2 separate regions of the Homo sapiens genome follow, and region 2 is linked to region 1. The links come from fine-mapping of genetic effects on gene expression. A gene starts in region 1. The other region holds a variant in brackets. All regions are shown on one strand. Distances are between the middles of the regions.

The links.
Region 2: its variant is fine-mapped to the expression of ASIC3 in whole blood (TOPMed, PIP above 0.99).

The regions. Positions count from the first base shown.
Region 1 is chr7:151,042,273-151,054,675 of GRCh38, forward strand. ASIC3 (acid sensing ion channel subunit 3) reads left to right here and starts at 6,259. Exons shown (of 11, transcript NM_004769.4): 1 at 6,259-7,147; 2 at 7,834-7,984; 3 at 8,209-8,336; 4 at 8,486-8,681; 5 at 8,767-8,823; 6 at 8,900-9,047; 7 at 9,538-9,629; 8 at 9,711-9,790; 9 at 9,894-9,965; 10 at 10,144-10,202; 11 at 10,302-10,482. The coding sequence starts at 6,614. The coding sequence ends at 10,380. ABCB8 (ATP binding cassette subfamily B member 8) reads left to right here. Exons shown (of 16, transcript NM_007188.5): 15 at 1,699-1,949; 16 at 2,937-5,510. The coding sequence ends at 3,077. CDK5 (cyclin dependent kinase 5) reads right to left here. Exons shown (of 12, transcript NM_004935.4): 10 at 12,133-12,193; 11 at 11,940-12,020; 12 at 11,543-11,823. The coding sequence ends at 11,737. RefSeq lists enhancers at 7,771-8,409, 9,265-9,843, 11,277-11,777 and a silencer at 8,842-8,951.
Region 2 is chr7:150,996,596-151,004,595 of GRCh38, forward strand. It overlaps NOS3 (nitric oxide synthase 3), which reads left to right. Exons shown (of 27, transcript NM_000603.5): 5 at 168-330; 6 at 1,762-1,853; 7 at 1,944-2,085; 8 at 2,351-2,490; 9 at 2,595-2,769; 10 at 3,903-4,004; 11 at 4,636-4,830; 12 at 4,949-5,022; 13 at 5,226-5,370; 14 at 5,605-5,709. Among named protein-coding and RNA genes, the nearest start is that of NOS3, 9.6 kb to the left of the region's middle. RefSeq lists a silencer at 3,631-3,793 and enhancers at 4,647-5,846, 5,124-5,624. The variant G/A (reference allele first, on the strand shown) is at 4,666.

The DNA.
Region 1 (12,403 bases):
TGTGTGGGGACAGGGGAGTCCAGGCCAGTGTGGTTCAGAACCAGCAGACCAGGCAGGCTGCAGAGACAGGACGGGCTCTAGGAGGAGCTGGAGAATGCGACAGAGGGCATATGACAGGCTCCTGGCCAGGGACACAGTGATGCATGGTGTTTGGAGTCCTCACCGAGTCTAAAAGGCCGCCACTTCCCCAGACTGAACAGAAGAAATGGGGGGCTGCCTCCTCTCCACCATCCATCCCCCTCTGGCTCCTGTTTCCTTCCTGTGCTTTTCATCTCTAAAGTCGTTTCTCATTAGAATCGGGGTGACTGGATGGGCCCCAGGAGAGGGCTCTGGTGGTTCTGAACTAGGAACACGCAGCCTGGCACTGCAGGGCGTGCACCTTGCAGCTTGACGTGCGGAGCTCCCAGGTCTTTTTCCAGCCTTCGGGGCCATGTTTCTCGGCCAGTGTCTTGGCTCTGTTGCACAGTGTTTCAGCACTTCTCAGGATACAGGGATACCTGGGCTTCTCAACTCTGGTCAGTCTGAGTCCAGCCTTCTGAGCTGTGGGGCCAGTGTCCCCAGCCCAGCCATCGTGTTCTAGATGGCTCCTCCAGCCGTGTTGATACACTGTCCAGATGCCAGCTGTCCTCACTGGGTGCTCTCCCACATCTCTTTTGGGTGGCACTTTCCTTGTGTCTCTGATCCTAGTACTTTCTGCTCATTTGGGCCTTCTTGGGGCTGCGTCCTTACTGACCTGTCACCCTGCTGTCACCTTGAGGTTCTTTTTGGCTCCCAGGCTGCCACTTGTGCTGTCCTCTGTGGGCTTCGAATCCCACCTCCCTGGAGTCACTGGACCCCAGAGCCCATGTTTGGGTGCTGGATGTTCCCCACAGCCACAGAGACCCGGGAGGCTGGGAAGGTGGCTTGGAACTGCAGGCACAGGGCAGGGTGTGGGTCATCCTGGCCTGAGGCACTGCCATGGCTGGGGAGGGGCATTTGGCAACTCCCTTGGAGTGCACCAAGCCCTGCTGGCGGTGTCACACCACCCTCAGAGGCAGGGCAAGTGTGCACAGTGGCTGAGGGACCCAGAGGTGGGATGAGCCAGTGCAGGGGGAACCCAGAGGAGGAGTGTACACAGTGTGGGGTGGGGGGTCAGAGGCAGGAGGAGGGTGCACAGTGCGGGGTGGGGGTCAGAGACAGGACTAGGGTGCACAGTGCGGGGTGGAGGGTCAGAGACAGGACTAGGGTGCACAGTGTGGGGTGGAGGGTCAGAGACAGGACTAGGGTGCACAGTGCGGGGTGGAGGGTCAGAGACAGGACTAGGGTGCACAGTGTGGGGTGGAGGGTCAGAGGCAGGACTAGGGTGCACAGTGCAAGGTGGAGGGTCAGAGGCAGGACGAGCGTACACAGTGCGGGGTAGAGGGTCAGAGGCAGGACGAGGGTGCACAGTGCGGGGTGGGGGGTCAGAGGCAGGAGGAGGGTGCACAGTGCGGGGTGGGGGTCAGAGGCAGGAGGAGGGTGCACGGTGTGGGGTGGGGGGTCAGAGGCAGGAGGAGGATGCACAGTGCGGGGTGGGGGTCAGAGGCAGGAGGAGGGTGCACAGTGCTGAGAGGGGCACTTAGAGGATCTTGATGGGCGTTCAGGAAGGACCCTGTGCCCCTTTGTGGGCCACCCTCAAGTGCACAGCTTCAGGCTCCTGCCCTGCCCCTCCCTTCCCAGGTGAACGGGGCACTACCCTGTCTGGGGGCCAGAAGCAGCGCCTGGCCATCGCCCGAGCCCTTATCAAGCAGCCCACGGTGCTGATACTGGATGAAGCTACCAGCGCGCTGGATGCAGAGTCCGAGCGGGTTGTACAGGAGGCCCTGGACCGGGCCAGTGCAGGCCGCACGGTGCTGGTAATTGCCCACCGGCTCAGCACTGTCCGTGGGGCCCACTGCATTGTCGTCATGGCCGATGGCCGTGTCTGGGAGGTTAGTTGTCCTGGGGGCGTGGATCAGTGGGTTGAGGATGGCTTCATCACGGACAGTGGCACAATGCTGCAATGAGTTATATGAAGTTGTGGCCTGGCCCCAGGGCCTTGGGGGCTATATTCTGGAAGCAGCGTCCCATATAGAGTCAGGAGTTCCTGCATTCAGCCAAGCCCTGGCCTCTCAGGCCCTCAGTTTCTTCTTCTGTCCCCTGGGATAGTATAATTGCACCATCAGCTCCCAGGATCAAAAGGAAAAGTACTAGCCGGGTGCCTGTAATCCCAGCACTTTGGGAAGCCAAGGCAGAAGGATCTCTTGAGGCTAGCCTGGGCAGCATAGCGGGACCCTGTCTCTACAAAATACCAAAAAAAAAAAATTAGCCGGATGTGGTGGCATGCACCTGTACTCCCAGCTACTCTGGAGGCGGAGGCGGGAGGATTACTTGAGCCCCAGAGGTTGAGGCTGCAGTGAACAATGATTGTGCCATTGCGCTCCAGCCTGGCATCAGAATGAGACCCTGTCTCAAAAAACAAAAAGGAAACATACTCAGAGTATGGTGCTGGGAGCAAGGAGCAGGGCTAGCTGCCCAGGGTATCAGGTGCAGGAGAAGCAGCGCCAAGGAACCTGTGCAGGGAGTCAGGAGTAGGACCCCAGAGGCCGTGTGGCGTTGGCTAACAGCCACTCATTCAAGCCAAGGCTGAGGGGCTCGTGCAGGGAGACGGATCCTGAGTTGGAGCCTTGGGCTCTGTAAGGGGGACAGAGGGAATCATGTTCTTCCAAAATTCAGCTAAGTAAGGAAGTGGCAGTAACTAATGCAGCATGCCAGTGGCGGTTCCTTTCAGATTGGGCATTGGTTTCAGAGTGTCCCCAGAAGGGACACCGGCCTAAGTGACCATGGGCCCAATGGCTGATAGAGAGGCTCAGCTCTCTGAGGGTTCTGAAGCCTGCATGCCTTGGAGCAACCATCCGCCCTTCCCTCCCATCTTCCAGGCTGGGACACATGAAGAGCTCCTGAAGAAAGGCGGGCTATACGCCGAGCTCATCCGGAGGCAGGCCCTGGATGCCCCGAGGACAGCGGCCCCACCGCCCAAAAAGCCAGAAGGCCCCAGGAGCCACCAGCACAAGTCCTGAGAAGGGCCCCCTGAGGTGTGGTCGCTGCCAAGCATCAGTGTTAGGGCTGGGGCTCAGCCTGGGGGAGCCTACTGGGGACTGAGCCCCCAGGAGGGCCAGCATGTGGAGAGTCGCTGCGGCTGCTCCTGCTCACAATAAAGCCGGGGCCGAGCAGCTGGCAGGGGAGGCCAATCCCTCCCTCCCCTCCCCAGTCCTGCCGGCTGCCTCCCTCCCACCAGAGTCTGCCAGAGTCATTGGGCTGCAATGGGCAGAGACAGAGTTCCACGAGACACCTCCACTCTATTCTCCCTTTGCCCAGACCCCTCCAGACCTCTCAAGAGACGTTCTGGCCAGTCTCCCTGCCCCACCCAGCAGCTTCAAATTGGCCAGGCCTACAGTAGCTCCAGGGAATTTTTAAAAATCAGGGTCTGGAAGTGGGCCTGGGAATTCAAACCTAGGCTCTTCCCACACCCTTGCTAGGACCTCACTTCCCTAGACTGGCGACTGACTCCCTCTCCTGTGTCCCCACTCCCTCCATGGGAGAAGGAGCCTATCCCCTGGCTCACCCCGGGACCCACAGTCCCCATCTTCCAAACAACCTCCCTCCTTTCTCCCTGCACAGTGAACACAGTCCTGATTTCTAGATTTCACCTCCCCTCCCCACCCACAAGGGACACAGGCCTAACAGGGCCCAACACTTGGGTCAGGGTAGGAGGGACGGGGCCACAATGGCCAGTTCCCACGAGAAGCGCCAGCCTGCCTGGCTGTCTTCCACCGGCCCTGCCCTGTGTGCCTGGCGTCTTTCACCCACTGAGATTGTGAACCAGCCTCCATCTACACCAAGAACACCCAGCACTGAAGGAGATGGGAGGGGCTGATGCCCACCTGGAGCTCTCTGCTTCCTGCCCACAGTGCTGACGAGTACAGAGCTAAATGGAGCAGCTACTGCAGAATCCAGTACAGAATCGGTCCAGGAGGGTGCGGCTGTGGACAGGCCAGCATCCCCAGCAGGTTCTGGGAGGCGCACCTTGAAAGGGGAAGGCAGACATCCTGAGTGATGGGCGCCTGTGGCCCTGAGACTGTGGATGAGGGGGCTAGGCTCCAGCTGGCTTCTGAGGGGCCTGGAAAGGCACACAAGTAGGTCCTTGGCTGAACTGGTGCCCCAGCAGGACCTCGTGTCCCTGCACTGCTGCAGATGCATCAGCCCTCCCCATGTTGGTGCCGCTGTCACTTCCTACTGGGATCCTTCCCCTATCCAGCCACATCCAGGCTGTGGGACTACACGGTGCCCTGTTCCCCTGGGCAGGAGAAGAGGTGGTACCTGCAATGCACCTTCACAGCCAGGCAAGCATTCTGGATTTACCCTGTGTAAAGAAGGGTGGTACCCTCTTTCAGGGGTGTGATACAGTGCATTGATGGAGCAGCTGGTGCTGCTGGGAGGCCAGCCTGGAAGAGGCAGCAGTGGCTCAAGTTTGCGTGCAGGAGCCAGAGTGGGACCCACGGGCTCTTGTGGGTGTGGTTTAGAACTAGATGGTGCTTTGGGGACAAGCCATCCAAAAACCCCAGGCCCACATCCACCCTGATTTGATATCCCACTTCCTGACAGATCAGAGGCTGTGTCTTTAAGCAGTGGAGGTCCAGGAGCAGAGCCTGGGGCTGGTTCACAGCTAAACCCCTCCTTAGGGCAGCCCAGAGTAGGGCCTCAGCTGGCAAGTCCACAAGCCCTGCTGGGGCCCTGCTTGTTGGCCTGACCCCTCCCTCACCAGGCAGCCAGCCAAGGTGGTTCCTGCTTCACCCACTCAGTCATCAGCCTCAGGCTGCCCAAAATGCCTCTGACACCAGATTTATATCTTCTGGGCGGCTTCTTTAAATCCAGCCCTTCACCCGCCCCCTAGAGAAGCAGTGAAACCCCTTGGCTAGTCCAGCTGGAAGAGCTAGACCGCAGGAGCCGCGCCGTCTTCCTAACCTCGCCTCGGCCTTCGCTCCACAGTGGAGAGTGGGAGCCTAGCTGTGCTTGATGCTGAATGCCTGTTTTGAGAGTGTGAGTGGGATCATCTACAGTAAATACTTGCAAAGCATGGCACTGTGGCTCTGGGGAGCTGGTACGCCTGTGCTGTAACCATGGTACTCAGTCCTTCCAAAGTGTTTATTAATCAAGCACCTGTCATGTGCCATTGAGCCCACGATGGGGAATGAGGACAGTCCCTGCCCCCATGAAGCTTGTGTCCTGTTGGGAGGACAGACAGGTGGCCCAGCAGTTGCAGCATGGTGTGTGCACACGTTTGGCTGGTGGAACCATGTTTCTACCACTCATGGTCAAAAAAAGCCCACCAAAGTCCTGGGAGTTCACATCTGTGTGATGATACGGCAACATTGTTTGTAATGGAAAGACTGGACACCCCCAGTGCCCATCAGTGGGGGAGTCATTAAATAAACTATGGTATGTGCACATAATGGGTGGTATGCAGCCCTTTGGAAAAATGTAGGTTTTCCAGGTCCTGGATATAGCAGCGTAAGATGGGAAATCACAGAATACCCATGTTGTGCCTGAGATGGCAGGTGGGGTACCCGTGGTACCCGGGAGGGTGGCAGGTGGGGCACCCATGTTCTACCTGGGGTGGCAGGTGAGCCCATAACCATTGTAGAGGCCAACATCCTCAGAGGCCTGAGTGTGGGGAGGTAGGCTTTGACTCCCTAGGGAGAGAGGGACACTTAGGAAACAGACGGGCCCTGGAAGTGGGACATGAAGAGTGCCCTGGCCATCCAGTGTAGGCTGAGATGCTAGGGGCACAGAAAGAAGAGATCTGCTGATGCCAGCCTTCCAACCATTTCCCAGCTTGGCCAAGAGCCAGCTCTGGTATTCGTGAAGGAACAGATCCTGGGTGAAGCTAGAGGGAAGGCCGCAGAGGCAAAAGGAGAGAGGAGCTAGGCCAGGGGTCAGCGACTGACCCTCGCGGCCAGTGTACAGGGGTTGCAACTGGGAGCCTAGGGGGCCCCAAGGCATCTCCAGGCCCAATCTACCTCTGGGCTTTTCTCAAGCTCTCCCTAGGATTACTGCGGTTTCCTCCTGGCGCCTCTCGTCTTGGACAGCCATGCCCCCCTCCATGCTGCACTAATGGCTCAGCCTGGGGCCCTAGGGACCTCTCCTACCCCCCAGACTGCTCTGTCGGCCCCCTTTCCCCCCTACTGCTGAAACCCAATCCTCTGCAGCAGCGCCGGCTCAGCACCGCCGGCTCAGCACCGCTCCGCAGCCCCTGCCTGCCACGGTCAGCTACGTCCCACCTGGTCTGCTGCGGAGTCCCCAGCCCAGTGCCTAGCCCAGTGGAGCCACCGCCTGTTCCTCGGGAAGGAACAGTGGGACCTGACCGGCCAGATCACCTCCTCCAATCCTGCCAGGCTAGTGCCTCCCTGCCTTCCAACCTTGGCTGTCTCCCACCCTCTCTTCTCCTCTCCTTGCCTGGCCTCCTGAATCCTATCTTAGCCTCCTTAGCCCCCTGACTGACTCTCTCTCGCTTCTTCCAAGCCTCTGTAGCTGGTTCCGCTCCTGGGTTCTGGCCATGAAGCCCACCTCAGGCCCAGAGGAGGCCCGGCGGCCAGCCTCGGACATCCGCGTGTTCGCCAGCAACTGCTCGATGCACGGGCTGGGCCACGTCTTCGGGCCAGGCAGCCTGAGCCTGCGCCGGGGGATGTGGGCAGCGGCCGTGGTCCTGTCAGTGGCCACCTTCCTCTACCAGGTGGCTGAGAGGGTGCGCTACTACAGGGAGTTCCACCACCAGACTGCCCTGGATGAGCGAGAAAGCCACCGGCTCATCTTCCCGGCTGTCACCCTGTGCAACATCAACCCACTGCGCCGCTCGCGCCTAACGCCCAACGACCTGCACTGGGCTGGGTCTGCGCTGCTGGGCCTGGATCCCGCAGAGCACGCCGCCTTCCTGCGCGCCCTGGGCCGGCCCCCTGCACCGCCCGGCTTCATGCCCAGTCCCACCTTTGACATGGCGCAACTCTATGCCCGTGCTGGGCACTCCCTGGATGACATGCTGCTGGACTGTCGCTTCCGTGGCCAACCTTGTGGGCCTGAGAACTTCACCACGGTGAGCTGACCTCCCTACCTATCCTGCCAGGGACCCAGAGAGCCGACCAGTCCCTGCCCAGCACCCACAATTCCCTAGCCAGCACAGGCTCCCCCAAAGCCAGGGGACCTCTTCCTTCCTACCAGCCATGGACTCCCCACCCCCCAGTGCCACTCCGTGCAGCCCAGGAAGCTGTCCTCCTTGGGGCTTTCTCTGTCTCCCAGCCCGAGGGGAGCATGTGAGGCCACACTGACCCCGGCTGGCCCTAGGCCTGAGGTCTGGCCCAGGGAGGCCCTGCTCCTGGGGCTGGGGGTCCTCCATGGTGGGACCATTCTGGGGCAGAAGACCCCTATCTCTGCCAGGAGGTGGGGGGGGCTTGCTTTCCCTCTGCCTTTTCAACATACTGCCAGCCCCGGAGGACAGCCACAGGGGCCCATTTCCTTTTCCTGCAGTTCCCAGAGAAACACAGAAAAACCTGTAGGCTGTGCCCTGGGCTTTGGTGGGGATTGGCGGGGTGGAGGAGCTGAGTTGATGGGCTCCCAAGAGCGTCCTGCAACATGTGCCCACTGGAGCGTGGGGCTGGGGGCATTGAGATGCGGGCTTCAGTATTCAAAGAAGAGACGCAAACATACCATGAGGTGGGGAGAGGTCCCATGACCATGTGCCTGCCTGGGGGAGATGGCCATCACCCTGTCTGCCCGCCCCAGATCTTCACCCGGATGGGAAAGTGCTACACATTTAACTCTGGCGCTGATGGGGCAGAGCTGCTCACCACTACTAGGGGTGGCATGGGCAATGGGCTGGACATCATGCTGGACGTGCAGCAGGAGGAATATCTACCTGTGTGGAGGGACAATGGTAGGGAGCACACAAATGAGGCTGGGGGAGGGCACGGATGGAGTGCAAAAGGCTAGGGGAAGGAGAGGAGGAGAGGAGGTGTCAGGGTGTTCCCCCAGAACCTGTGAAAGGGGCTGGGCTGGCTCATCCCAGTCCTGGGGAGAGGGGCTGCAGTGAGAGGTCTTGTCTGGTTGGGCAGGAGACCTGACCACACAGGTCAGGCCTCACAGGTCCCTCCCCGACAGAGGAGACCCCGTTTGAGGTGGGGATCCGAGTGCAGATCCACAGCCAGGAGGAGCCGCCCATCATCGATCAGCTGGGCTTGGGGGTGTCCCCGGGCTACCAGACCTTTGTTTCTTGCCAGCAGCAGCAGGTACCCTTCCGTGTGCCTCCACACCTACTACTTCAAGCCCACACCACCTCAGACCCTAAACCCTCAGCTCCTCAGACCTGTCTAGGGGCCTCTCCCCAGCTGGCCTCTCACGCTCTCCGGGAAGCCTCCTTAACCCTGTCCCCCCACAGCTGAGCTTCCTGCCACCGCCCTGGGGCGATTGCAGTTCAGCATCTCTGAACCCCAACTATGAGCCAGAGCCCTCTGATCCCCTAGGCTCCCCCAGCCCCAGCCCCAGCCCTCCCTATACCCTTATGGGGTGTCGCCTGGCCTGCGAAACCCGCTACGTGGCTCGGAAGTGCGGCTGCCGAATGGTGTACATGCCAGGTGAGGGGCTGGGGTTTTCGTCCCATGGCGGGCAGGGCCCAGGGAGCTGAGGCTGCTTCTAAAGCCATCTCCCCGGTACCCGCAGGCGACGTGCCAGTGTGCAGCCCCCAGCAGTACAAGAACTGTGCCCACCCGGCCATAGGTAAGGGCGAGCCTCCCCCACCTCCCGTCCGCCCCGCTCCGCCCGCGGGCGTCTGACGCGGCCCGGTGGCCCGCAGATGCCATGCTTCGCAAGGACTCGTGCGCCTGCCCCAACCCGTGCGCCAGCACGCGCTACGCCAAGGAGCTCTCCATGGTGCGGATCCCGAGCCGCGCCGCCGCGCGCTTCCTGGCCCGGAAGCTCAACCGCAGCGAGGCCTACATCGCGTGAGCTGCGCGGGGCGGGCGGGCTCCTCCGAGCCGGGGGCTCCCGACGGGGCGGAACGGGGCAGGCCAGGCCGTAGCCCTAGTGCGCACAGCCCGGGCGGAGGCAGCCTCCGCAGCCTCACTGGCTCTGGGGCTCCGTGCTGGTTGCTTAATCTTTCTGGCCCCGGGGGATGCTGACGCCTCCTCCCAGGGGTCTGTTTTTTTTTCCTTTCCTTTTATTTTTTAATCTTTACTTTTAAAAAACAGAGACGGCGGGGGGCGGGGGAGGGGAGGGGAGGGGACTCGCTGTATTGCCCAGGCTGGTCTCAAACTCCTGGCCTCAAGATCCTCCCTCCTCATCCTCCCAAAGTGCAGGGAGTACAGGTGTGAGCCACCGTGCCCGGCCTCTCCCAGGGTTCTTGAAAGGAGTGGGAGAACCCACAGCTGCTTCTTGCCAGCAGTGGGCACCAGGCGGTGGCCAGCCCACATTTGAGGCCATTCTTGTCCTCAGGGAGAACGTGCTGGCCCTGGACATCTTCTTTGAGGCCCTCAACTATGAGACCGTGGAGCAGAAGAAGGCCTATGAGATGTCAGAGCTGCTTGGTGTGTGTGCAGGGCCCCCAGGGCTGGGGGGGTGTGGGCAGGCAGGTGGCTGTAAGTTGAAGGGTGACCCTGTCTCCACAGGTGACATTGGGGGCCAGATGGGGCTGTTCATCGGGGCCAGCCTGCTCACCATCCTCGAGATCCTAGACTACCTCTGTGAGGTGGGCCAGGGCCCCCACTGCAGGGGGTGGGAGGTGGGAATCAGGGCCCCTAGGATGAGGGGGAAGGTGTGCACTGGCCACCTCCCATCCTGCTTGCCTCCAGGTGTTCCGAGACAAGGTCCTGGGATATTTCTGGAACCGACAGCACTCCCAAAGGCACTCCAGCACCAATCTGGTAACAGCCCCTCTTCTGGAGCCCTTGCCTGCTCCAAGGGTGCTAGGGCCCACCCCTGAAGCCTAGACCACCATCCCGCCCCAGCTGAGGAGAAACAGGCAGGAGGGTGTGCAGTGACCTCGACTGGTCCCTGGGAGGAGGACCACTCCCCACCTCTGACCCTCTCGTCCTCACACAGCTTCAGGAAGGGCTGGGCAGCCATCGAACCCAAGTTCCCCACCTCAGCCTGGGCCCCAGGTAACACATAATGGCCCCCTAAAATCAAGGGAGGGCAGGGGCAGGCTCAGGACAGTGGGTGTGCCCGTTCCCACCCCAGCACTCTGCTCTGTTCCGAAGACCTCCCACCCCTCCCTGTGCCGTCACCAAGACTCTCTCCGCCTCCCACCGCACCTGCTACCTTGTCACACAGCTCTAGACCTGCTGTCTGTGTCCTCGGAGCCCCGCCCTGACATCCTGGACATGCCTAGCCTGCACGTAGCTTTTCCGTCTTCACCCCAAATAAAGTCCTAATGCATCAGCCTCAGCTGTTTCTCTTACAGGGCAGAGACTAGCCAAGCCAAGGTCAGCCCAACTTAGGCATTGGAAGTCTTCTGCCAGCCATCATCCAGCTGGACGTGGCTTCTGAAATGTGGAGCTGGGCCCTTGAACCCCCATGAATCTCTAGGGGAGAATGGTAGCAAGAGGTTATCAGTCATTTGCACCTCAGTGTGAGTGAGTTTAGCCGACTGACATCTTAGAGAGAAGGGAGGACAGGTATCCTCCAAGCCCGGGTTAGGTGTGAGGTGCAGAATCACAGTCAGCAATAAAGGTATAACTGGAAGAAAACTCTGCCCAGAGCTCAGCAAGAAGAGGCAGGGAGAAGACGGGGTGACTCCACTTTCAAGAACACCTGTGTCCTGCCTTACATCCTGACTCCTTTCCCACATTTGGGACCAAGTGCGGCACACAGCCTGTCTCCATACAAACAAGTTCTGCCTCCTCAGCCTCCCCACAAGAGCTAAAGGCCCCAGGCTTGAGACGGTGGGGGTGGGGGTGGGGGTAGGCGGAGCCCTCCCTTCCTCTTCCTGCCAGTAAGGACACACCAGGCCCCAGCCACAGGCCCAACTTCCCTCTCTTTCACTGGACCCCAAACATTGGGAAACTGACAAATAGGGAGTGGGAGGGGGTGTTCCTGATGGAACCATATCTTTGGGGCTCTCCTGTGCCAGCCTGCAGGCCTTGGTATGGGGGGGATGATGAGGGAAAGGACAAGAGGATCCACCTGAGATATGGAGAACCACAAGGAGAGGCCCAGCCCTTTCCTCTCCACCCTGGTGGGGAGCCCATCCTTGCTCCCCTCACTCTGAGGGACCACATCAGGCCCTCCTGGGCAGAGGAAGGGAGGGTGGGAGGAAGGGGTGTGCAGCGACAGTGCTGCCCTGCCCCAGGGGTGAGGGGTGAGGGTCATGGCCTCTTAAAGTAGAAGAGCAAGGTGCTGTCTTTGAGCCAGAAGCAGGATTGCGGCCGGCAGTAACAGACCAGAGACACCTCCAGCCCATGGGCCCTGTAGAGCCACTTGACCACCACATCAACCAGACTGTGGGAAAGGAGCCAATTTATGAAATTAAATAAAGTCCACAAAGGGAGTGAGAAATTCGGGCTCAGGCACCCCACCCCGGCTGGGCCCAGCACTGCTGGAGCACAGCGCACCAGGCACCCCCACTGTCTCACCCCTCTCAAGAGGGGGCTTAAATAGGCCAGGCCCCAGCCTGGAGGCCGGGGGTCCCGGGGCCTAGGGCGGACAGAAGTCGGAGAAGTAGGGGTGCTGCAGGGCCTCTTCTGCTGAGATACGCTGGACAGGGTTACACTTCAGAAGGTTCTGGAGATGGGGGAAAGGAGGTGGCAGGTTCAGGACAGGTCACTGCCCAGAGCCCTGCCTTCCTGTAGTCCCACTGGGCAAGTGTCCTGACCCACCCTCTACCCCTGGTCACCTACCTGCAGCAGATCCCTCCCTGTGGCATTGAGTTTGGGCACGACGTTCACCAGGGATGTTGTGGCCGGGTACATCGGATAGGGCTGTGGAGAGGCAGGGAGGGTCAGACTAGAGGTAGGGGGAGGGGGATGGAGGCGCTAGGAATGTGAAACGAGTGACCCTGATGAACCATGACCCCCACATTCCCCATCACACCTTATAGTCTGGCAGCTTGGTCATAGAGGGCCACTGCTCCTCGGTGGGCGTCCCCAGCAGTGTGTCCACGGAGTCAAGGATCACTTGGGAAAGGGCCACAGCTGCATCTTCAGGGGCAGGGTGAGGGCCTCTTCCCCTCCTGGGGAGGGATTCCTCATACCCACCGCCCACTTCTCACCCTCCCTTTACCCTCCGGCTTGAGCTTGACAGAAGCAGCCCCAGGCAGGTCACTCGCATATCCAGCCACGTTTCCCATGACAATCACCTAACC
Region 2 (8,000 bases), 48 kb before region 1:
GCCCCAGAAACCCCGTGACGACCTTCCCATGACCCCCTCCCTTCCCAGATCCTAACACCACGTGGGCCCCTCCCGCCCTCCCCCAGCACTTGCACAAAGCCTGGAGGAGGGCCTCCCTGTCCCACACAACTTCCTGCTTGTCCCCTTCCCACCCCTCTCCTCCCCAGGAGCGGCTCCCAGGCCCACGAACAGCGGCTTCAAGAGGTGGAAGCCGAGGTGGCAGCCACAGGCACCTACCAGCTTAGGGAGAGCGAGCTGGTGTTCGGGGCTAAGCAGGCCTGGCGCAACGCTCCCCGCTGCGTGGGCCGGATCCAGTGGGGGAAGCTGCAGGTGCGGCTGGCCAGCGACTGAGAGACCCGGGCGCTACCAAAAGGGGAGCGGGGTGGCGGGGCAGTTCCTAAGGCTTCCCGGGGGCTGGGAGGTCCCAAACTGTGGGGGAGATCCTTGCCTTTTCCCTTAGAGACTGGAAAGGTAGGGGGACTGCCCCACCCTCAGCACCCAGGGGAACCTCAGCCCAGTAGTGAAGACCTGGTTATCAGGCCCTATGGTAGTGCCTTGGCTGGAGGAGGGGAAAGAAGTCTAGACCTGCTGCAGGGGTGAGGAAGTCTAGACCTGCTGCAGGGGTGAGGAAGTCTAGACCTGCTGCAGGGGTGAGGAAGTCTAGACCTGCTGCGGGGGTGAGGAAGTCTAGACCTGCTGCGGGGGTGAGGACAGCTGAGCGGAGCTTCCCTGGGCGGTGCTGTCAGTAGCAGGAGCAGCCTCCTGGAAAAGCCCTGGCTGCTGCTTCTCCCCCAAGAGAGAAGGCTTCTCCCGCCAGGCCAGTCCAGTGCAGCCCCTCACCCACACCCACTGCTACCCCAGTTCCCCTGCTTCGGCCCGCACCCTCCCTCACACCCCAGCCCACAGACTCGGGGCTGGCCTTAGTTACTGGAACGCCTGTGACCACAGCACTAAGAGAAGCAAGCTGCCCCATGGGGGACTTGGTCCCATGGCCTTGGCCTCCTTCACCATCACTGGCCGCCAAAGAGTTTGAAATAAAGCCACGTGCCCAGTGAATCCCAAAGGAACCTCAACTAAAATAAAAACAATCCTATCTGACACTTGCCTGACCCTCTAAGTCATTCAAAGCTTTAGCTCAACTTCGATCCATCTGAGCTGCCATAGTGGACCCCACTCAGAGCTGCGTCCCTCCCTTGACCCCAGGTTGGTCCCTGCCACTCCCCTGCCCCTGTCACTGACACATGTTTCCTCCTCCCTCAGGCAGGAGTGGGACCTCCCAGCCTCCTCCTGGGGCCTCCACTCAGAATGTCAGGATGAGCAGGGTCCTAGGAGGCCTCTGGTGCAGCCTTCCCTTCCCACCATCCATGTGCTCAAAGAGAATCACCCGTCCTTTCTTGAATGCCATGGATCATGGGGGATTTGCTGCCCACACTCCTAGGCGGCCTCTTAGACATCCGTTGGTGCCTAACCCAAGCATCAGTTTGGCAGAGGCCGAGTCCCTCCTCTGTACTGGATACCAAGTCAGCTTCCATAGGGATGGGGAGACACCTGGCCCAGGGAGGAGATGAGAAGCAGCCCGGATGGTGCTACATATGTCAGAGAGCAGGGCAGGAAGGGATCAGTGTGGCTGCCAATGGTCAGGAGGGCGCCATGGAGTGAACCATGGCCCCTGCCTCCTCACCAGCAGCTCCTCTGGAGCTGATACTCAAGACCCCCCGTCTCTCTCCTCACCCTCCTCTCCCGCTGCCTCGGCTGGCTCAGGTGTTCGATGCCCGGGACTGCAGGTCTGCACAGGAAATGTTCACCTACATCTGCAACCACATCAAGTATGCCACCAACCGGGGCAACCTTCGGTGAGTGCCCCCCACCATGCCAGGCCCCAGCCTTCTTCCCCAAGGCAGGGAAGGCGGGGCTCTGACCAGCTCTTTCCCCATGCGTGCCAGCTCGGCCATCACAGTGTTCCCGCAGCGCTGCCCTGGCCGAGGAGACTTCCGAATCTGGAACAGCCAGCTGGTGCGCTACGCGGGCTACCGGCAGCAGGATGGCTCTGTGCGGGGGGACCCAGCCAACGTGGAGATCACCGAGGTGGGCACCGAGGGCCACCCATGAGGGTGTCCCCAAGGTGGAGAATGAGGAAACCAGTGGGAGAAGGCTCGGGGGATCCAGGCAGGAAGAGGGGAGCCTCGGTGAGATAAAGGATGAAAAACACCAAAGGAGGGGTGCCTGGGTGGTCACGGAGACCCAGCCAATGAGGGACCCTGGAGATGAAGGCAGGAGACAGTGGATGGAGGGGTCCCTGAGGAGGGCATGAGGCTCAGCCCCAGAACCCCCTCTGGCCCACTCCCCACAGCTCTGCATTCAGCACGGCTGGACCCCAGGAAACGGTCGCTTCGACGTGCTGCCCCTGCTGCTGCAGGCCCCAGATGATCCCCCAGAACTCTTCCTTCTGCCCCCCGAGCTGGTCCTTGAGGTGCCCCTGGAGCACCCCACGTGAGCACCAAAGGGATTGACTGGGTGGGATGGAGGGGGCCATCCCTGAGCCTCTCAAGAAGGGCCTGCAAGGGGGTGCTGATCCCACACCCCAACACCCCCAGGCTGGAGTGGTTTGCAGCCCTGGGCCTGCGCTGGTACGCCCTCCCGGCAGTGTCCAACATGCTGCTGGAAATTGGGGGCCTGGAGTTCCCCGCAGCCCCCTTCAGTGGCTGGTACATGAGCACTGAGATCGGCACGAGGAACCTGTGTGACCCTCACCGCTACAACATCCTGGAGGTGAGGTGCGGGATGGGGCTCGGGCACCGAATGCACCTGTCCAAGGCAGGAGTCTGGCTCTCACTCCATCCCCAAAATGCCAGCCACGGGGACAATCAGAGCAGGTCCAGGGTTGCCTCCTAAATGGGAACTGAGGACAAGCTCTAGAACCACTGAAGCAAAGGGGTAGGGGGTGGCAGGGGTGTGTGTGGGGGTGTGAGTGGGTGAGTGTGAGAGTGTGGGTTTCTGGGGTGTGCAGTGGGTGAGAGTGTGGGCTTGTGGGGTGTGTAGTGGGTGTGAGACTGTGGGTTTGTAGGGGTGGGTGAGTGTGGGTGTGTGGGGGTAGGTGGGTGTGGGTTTGTGGGTGTGTATAGGCAGTGACTGTGAGACTGTGGGTTTGTGGGGGTAGGTGACTGTGGGTTTGTGGGGTGTGTAGGGGTGAGTGTGTGTGGGTTTGTAGGGGTAGGCGAGTGTGGGTTTGTGGGGTGTGTAGGGGTGAGTGTGTGTGAGTTTGTAGGGGTAGGCGAGTGTGGGTTTGTGGGGTGTGTAGGGGTGAGTGTGTGTGAGTTTGTAGGGGTAGGTGAGTGTGGGTTTGTGGGGTGTGTAGGGGGTGTGTGTGGGCTTGTAGGGGTAGGCGAGTGTGGGTTTGTGGGGTGTGTAGGGGCGAGTGTGAGAGTGTAGGTATGTGGGTGTGAGTGTGGATGTGTGTAGGCGGTGAGTGTGAAATTGTGGGTTTGTGGGGGTGGGTGGGTGTGAGTGTGTGGGTTTGTGGGTGGGTGTGGGTGTGAGTGGGTGGGTGAGGGGGGCATGGGGATGGGTGTGAACATGTAGTTGTTCTTTCAGGCATAGGACCCATAGCTCTAGAGCTTTCATCAGATTCTCAAAGGGGACCTTGACTCGGCAAAGGTTAAGACCCATTTTAGAGATGAGAAATTAAAGCCTGGAGCTGAGGAGCGACTGGCCCAAAGTCCCTCTCTGCTCTGAGGTGCCTTCGCAGGCAAAAACCTGAACCAGCCCCCTAGGCAGCCAGGCCTCCCAATGGACACCACTCACCTCACTCCTTCCAGCCATGTACGGGAAACAGAGATAGTCTCCCCACCCCACCCCCGTGATCACCTCTGTCCCTACCGATGCCACACACCCTTCTGCCCCAGGATGTGGCTGTCTGCATGGACCTGGATACCCGGACCACCTCGTCCCTGTGGAAAGACAAGGCAGCAGTGGAAATCAACGTGGCCGTGCTGCACAGTTACCAGGTGCAGAGGCCCAGACTGGCCAGGAAGGCAAAGGGTTTGCATACGGGGGCAGCAGGGGCGGGGGATGGAGGAGAGGCAGCCATTTAGAAACTAGGGCAGGATTTGGACAGGCAGAAGAAGTTCCGTAGTCCCAGTGCCATGGCGCACACTGGCCTGCGGTTCGGGGACAGGGCAGGTACTATTCCAGGCGCTGTCATCTGGTGGCTTACTGTGTGCCAGGGACCTTGCTGTTTACTGCATGCCCAGTCATGCTGATTCTCAGGGCATATTGGGTATTGCAGTTTGTGGGACCCGCTGGATCCTGGAAACAAATACCAGGATCAAGGGCACACCAGGAGTCGTAGTTTGAGGAAGCCGGGGCCTGCTGAGAATTTCTGTGGGCTATTTGGTTTGGGGACCAGGCATGCAGATGCTGGAGATTAGAGCTGCTTGTTGCATGTTGAACCTGCAGCATGACCATGCATGATGTGGTTTGGGGTGAGGGTGACATTGTGGTTTGAGGGGACACAGGGTGTGTTAGATATGGGGTAATCGAGGGCACATGTGGTTTGGGGTGACCGGAGTGGTGGAGGAAGAATGGGCGAGGTCTGTGGGTCTGGTTTGAGCCTCTCCCCCTCTCTCTCCCTTCCAGCTAGCCAAAGTCACCATCGTGGACCACCAC[G/A]CCGCCACGGCCTCTTTCATGAAGCACCTGGAGAATGAGCAGAAGGCCAGGGGGGGCTGCCCTGCAGACTGGGCCTGGATCGTGCCCCCCATCTCGGGCAGCCTCACTCCTGTTTTCCATCAGGAGATGGTCAACTATTTCCTGTCCCCGGCCTTCCGCTACCAGGTGCCCACCCTAACTGGCTCTGCCAGCCTGGGCCCAGCTCTAATTCTAAGCAGCCCCTGGGGACCTCTAACCTTTCCTTTTCTTTACCTCCCCTCCCAACCCCATCATCTCTCTGCAGCCAGACCCCTGGAAGGGGAGTGCCGCCAAGGGCACCGGCATCACCAGGAAGAAGACCTTTAAAGAAGTGGCCAAGTGGGTCCCCTGGGAGCCCCGCTCTCCCACACACACCCTGGGGGCCCCACTCTCCCCCACACACCCTGGGGGACCCTGCCCCAGCAGTGTTCTGGGCCTACCACTCAGTATCCCAAAACCCTGTTGTGAGGGGGTTGGACCCTTGCCTGGGGAGGCCCTGCCTCTGTGCACCCAGGACACCCTCACACCTTCCTCTCCCGCAGCGCCGTGAAGATCTCCGCCTCGCTCATGGGCACGGTGATGGCGAAGCGAGTGAAGGCGACAATCCTGTATGGCTCCGAGACCGGCCGGGCCCAGAGCTACGCACAGCAGCTGGGGAGACTCTTCCGGAAGGCTTTTGATCCCCGGGTAGGGCTGAGCCCAGGGGAGCAGGGAGCTAGAAAGAGGGGGCTCTATCAGCATCTTCAGGGGTGCCCTGGAGGACAGGAAGTGTTACAAGTCAGGACTCATGAGGAACCCGGAACCACAGGTGTTCAGAGATCAAGTTGGGGCCTGAATCTTGCACTGCCAGGGAGGCCAGAGTGAGGAGGGCAGGGCCTCCGGGGGCCACAGCACCCAGGACATCTGTCTTCCCACCCACAGGTCCTGTGTATGGATGAGTATGACGTGGTGTCCCTCGAACACGAGACGCTGGTGCTGGTGGTAACCAGCACATTTGGGAATGGGGATCCCCCGGAGAATGGAGAGGTGAGAACTTCCAGGAAAGGGGCTGCTGGGAATGAGGAGAGACTCAGAATTGGAGTGACTGGGCAGGAACCTCTGCCCAACACACACACACACACACACACACACACACACACACACACACACACACACACACACACACACACACACACGCCAGGATGGAAAGGGAGATGCTAAGAGACCCCTGGAGCCTGAAACCCCACACAAGCTACGCTCCCAGCCCACCCATGTGGCTGCCTCCCTGCAAGCACATTTGCTTAACTGCGCGTCCCCAAGTCATTTCCATTATCAGTGCAAGTTTTTAATACAAGGAAGGCACATCCTGGCTGACCAAGAGGTTAGACTGTGCTCGGGCACTGACAAGAAAAACAGGGATACGTCACTGAGGGCGGCTTCTAGGATGCGGGTAATGTTTCTTAATGGGATACTGGTTACACAGGTGTGTTCAGTTTGTAAAAATCCACAGAGCTGTACATTTACAACATGTGCAACACTATTCCAGCATTTTATTTTATTTGTTTTATTTATTTTGAGAACCTATTTACGTTGCCCAGGCTGGCCTTGAACTCCTAGCCTCAAGAGATCCTCCTGCCGCAGGCTCCTTTTTCAAAAGAAGAAATTGAGCGCTGTTTAGATGCCAACATAGATTAAATAACTTCACTTTTTAAAAAGAAACACAAAGCTAGAGTACCATCATTGAATTCCTTCTCTTGCAAGCTTAGGTATCTCTGAGGTGCCCCAGGCTAGGCTCATTTCTGAGTCTTACCTGCTCCAGCTTCTAGGTGTTAAAGGCCTTATTAGCACTAAGTACTTCCTCAGTACTCTTTTTTCTTTTTTCCTTTGAGACAGGGTCTCACTTTGTGGCCCAGGCTGGAGTGCAGTAGTACAATCACGGCTCACTGCAGCCTCAACCTCCTAGACTCAAGCAATCCTCCCACTTCAACCTCCCAAGTAGTTGGGACTACAGGCGCATGCCATGATGCCTAGCTAATTTTTGTATTTTTTATAGAGATGGGGTTTCGCCATGTTGCCCAGGCTGGTCTCTAACTCCTGGGTTCAAGCAATCCACCTGCCTCGGCCTCCCAAAGTGCTGCGATTATAGACGTGAGCCACTGCACCTGGCCCTCAGTATCTTAAGCAAGTTGGAATCTCGTGAAACCCTTTTTGCTGCCTTAGTGTCCGTTTCAGCCCTCATTCTGACCTACCTTTTCAAGAAAAATAGCACCAGCAATTGACTTTTTTTTAGCATAAAGGTGTATAGACACCCATATAACCTACAGCCTTCACAAGGCATAGCACATTTTCACCACCCTGGAAAGTTCCCTCATCAGTTCCTCACGTGAATCCCTTCCCAGTCTGTCTCCCTGCCAGAAGTGTCTGTCACCACAGAATAGTTTCGCCTGCTCTAGAACGGCACCTAGATGGAAGCACGCAGTGTTGCGGCGTCTCCTGCTGAGGCTGTTTTTGAGGCGCACTCGTGTTGCTGCGTGACTCAGTATTTCACTCATTCTGCTGCTGAGTGCCGTTCATTGTGTGAATATCCCCAGTTTGTTTACCCATTCTCTTGTTGGTGACACTTGGGCTGTTTCCAGGTCGGGGCTATTATGAATAAACCTGTTATGAACATTCTTGTACCCGGCTTTTGTGGGCTTATGTTTTTATTTCTCTTGGGTAAATACCTAGGAGTAGAATTGGTAGGTCATAGGGTAGATGCATGTTTAATCTTTCACTTTTTTAAAAAATAAAACTGCCAGGCCAGGCGCGGTGGCTCACGCCTGTGATCCCAGCACTTTGGGAGGCCCAGGTGGGTGGATCACTTGAGGTCAGAAGCTCAAGACCAGCCTGGCCAACATGGCAAAACCCTGTCTCTACTAAAAATACAAAAATTAGCTGGGCATGGTGGCGCACGCCTATAGTCCTAGCTACTCAGGAGGCTAGGCGGGAGAATTGCTTGAACCTGGGAGGTGGAGGTTGCAGTGAGCCGAGATCACGCCACTGCACTCCAGCCTGGGTGACAGAGCAAGAATTCTACTTAAAATAAAATACAAATAAATAAAATAAAACTGTCAAACAGCAAAGCAAATTAAACTGCCCTTTAACATCTGTGCAGTTCAATGTATGTTAATTTTATCCCAAATTTTTAACAAATCTAGGAATACAGCTCACAGAAAATGGGGTATATTCACTAAAAATAAGGAATATTTATAGCAAATTTGTTTGTAATACCCCACACTGGAAACAATTCAAATGACCATCGACAAATACTGATAAATTGTGGTATATTCAAGTGCCAT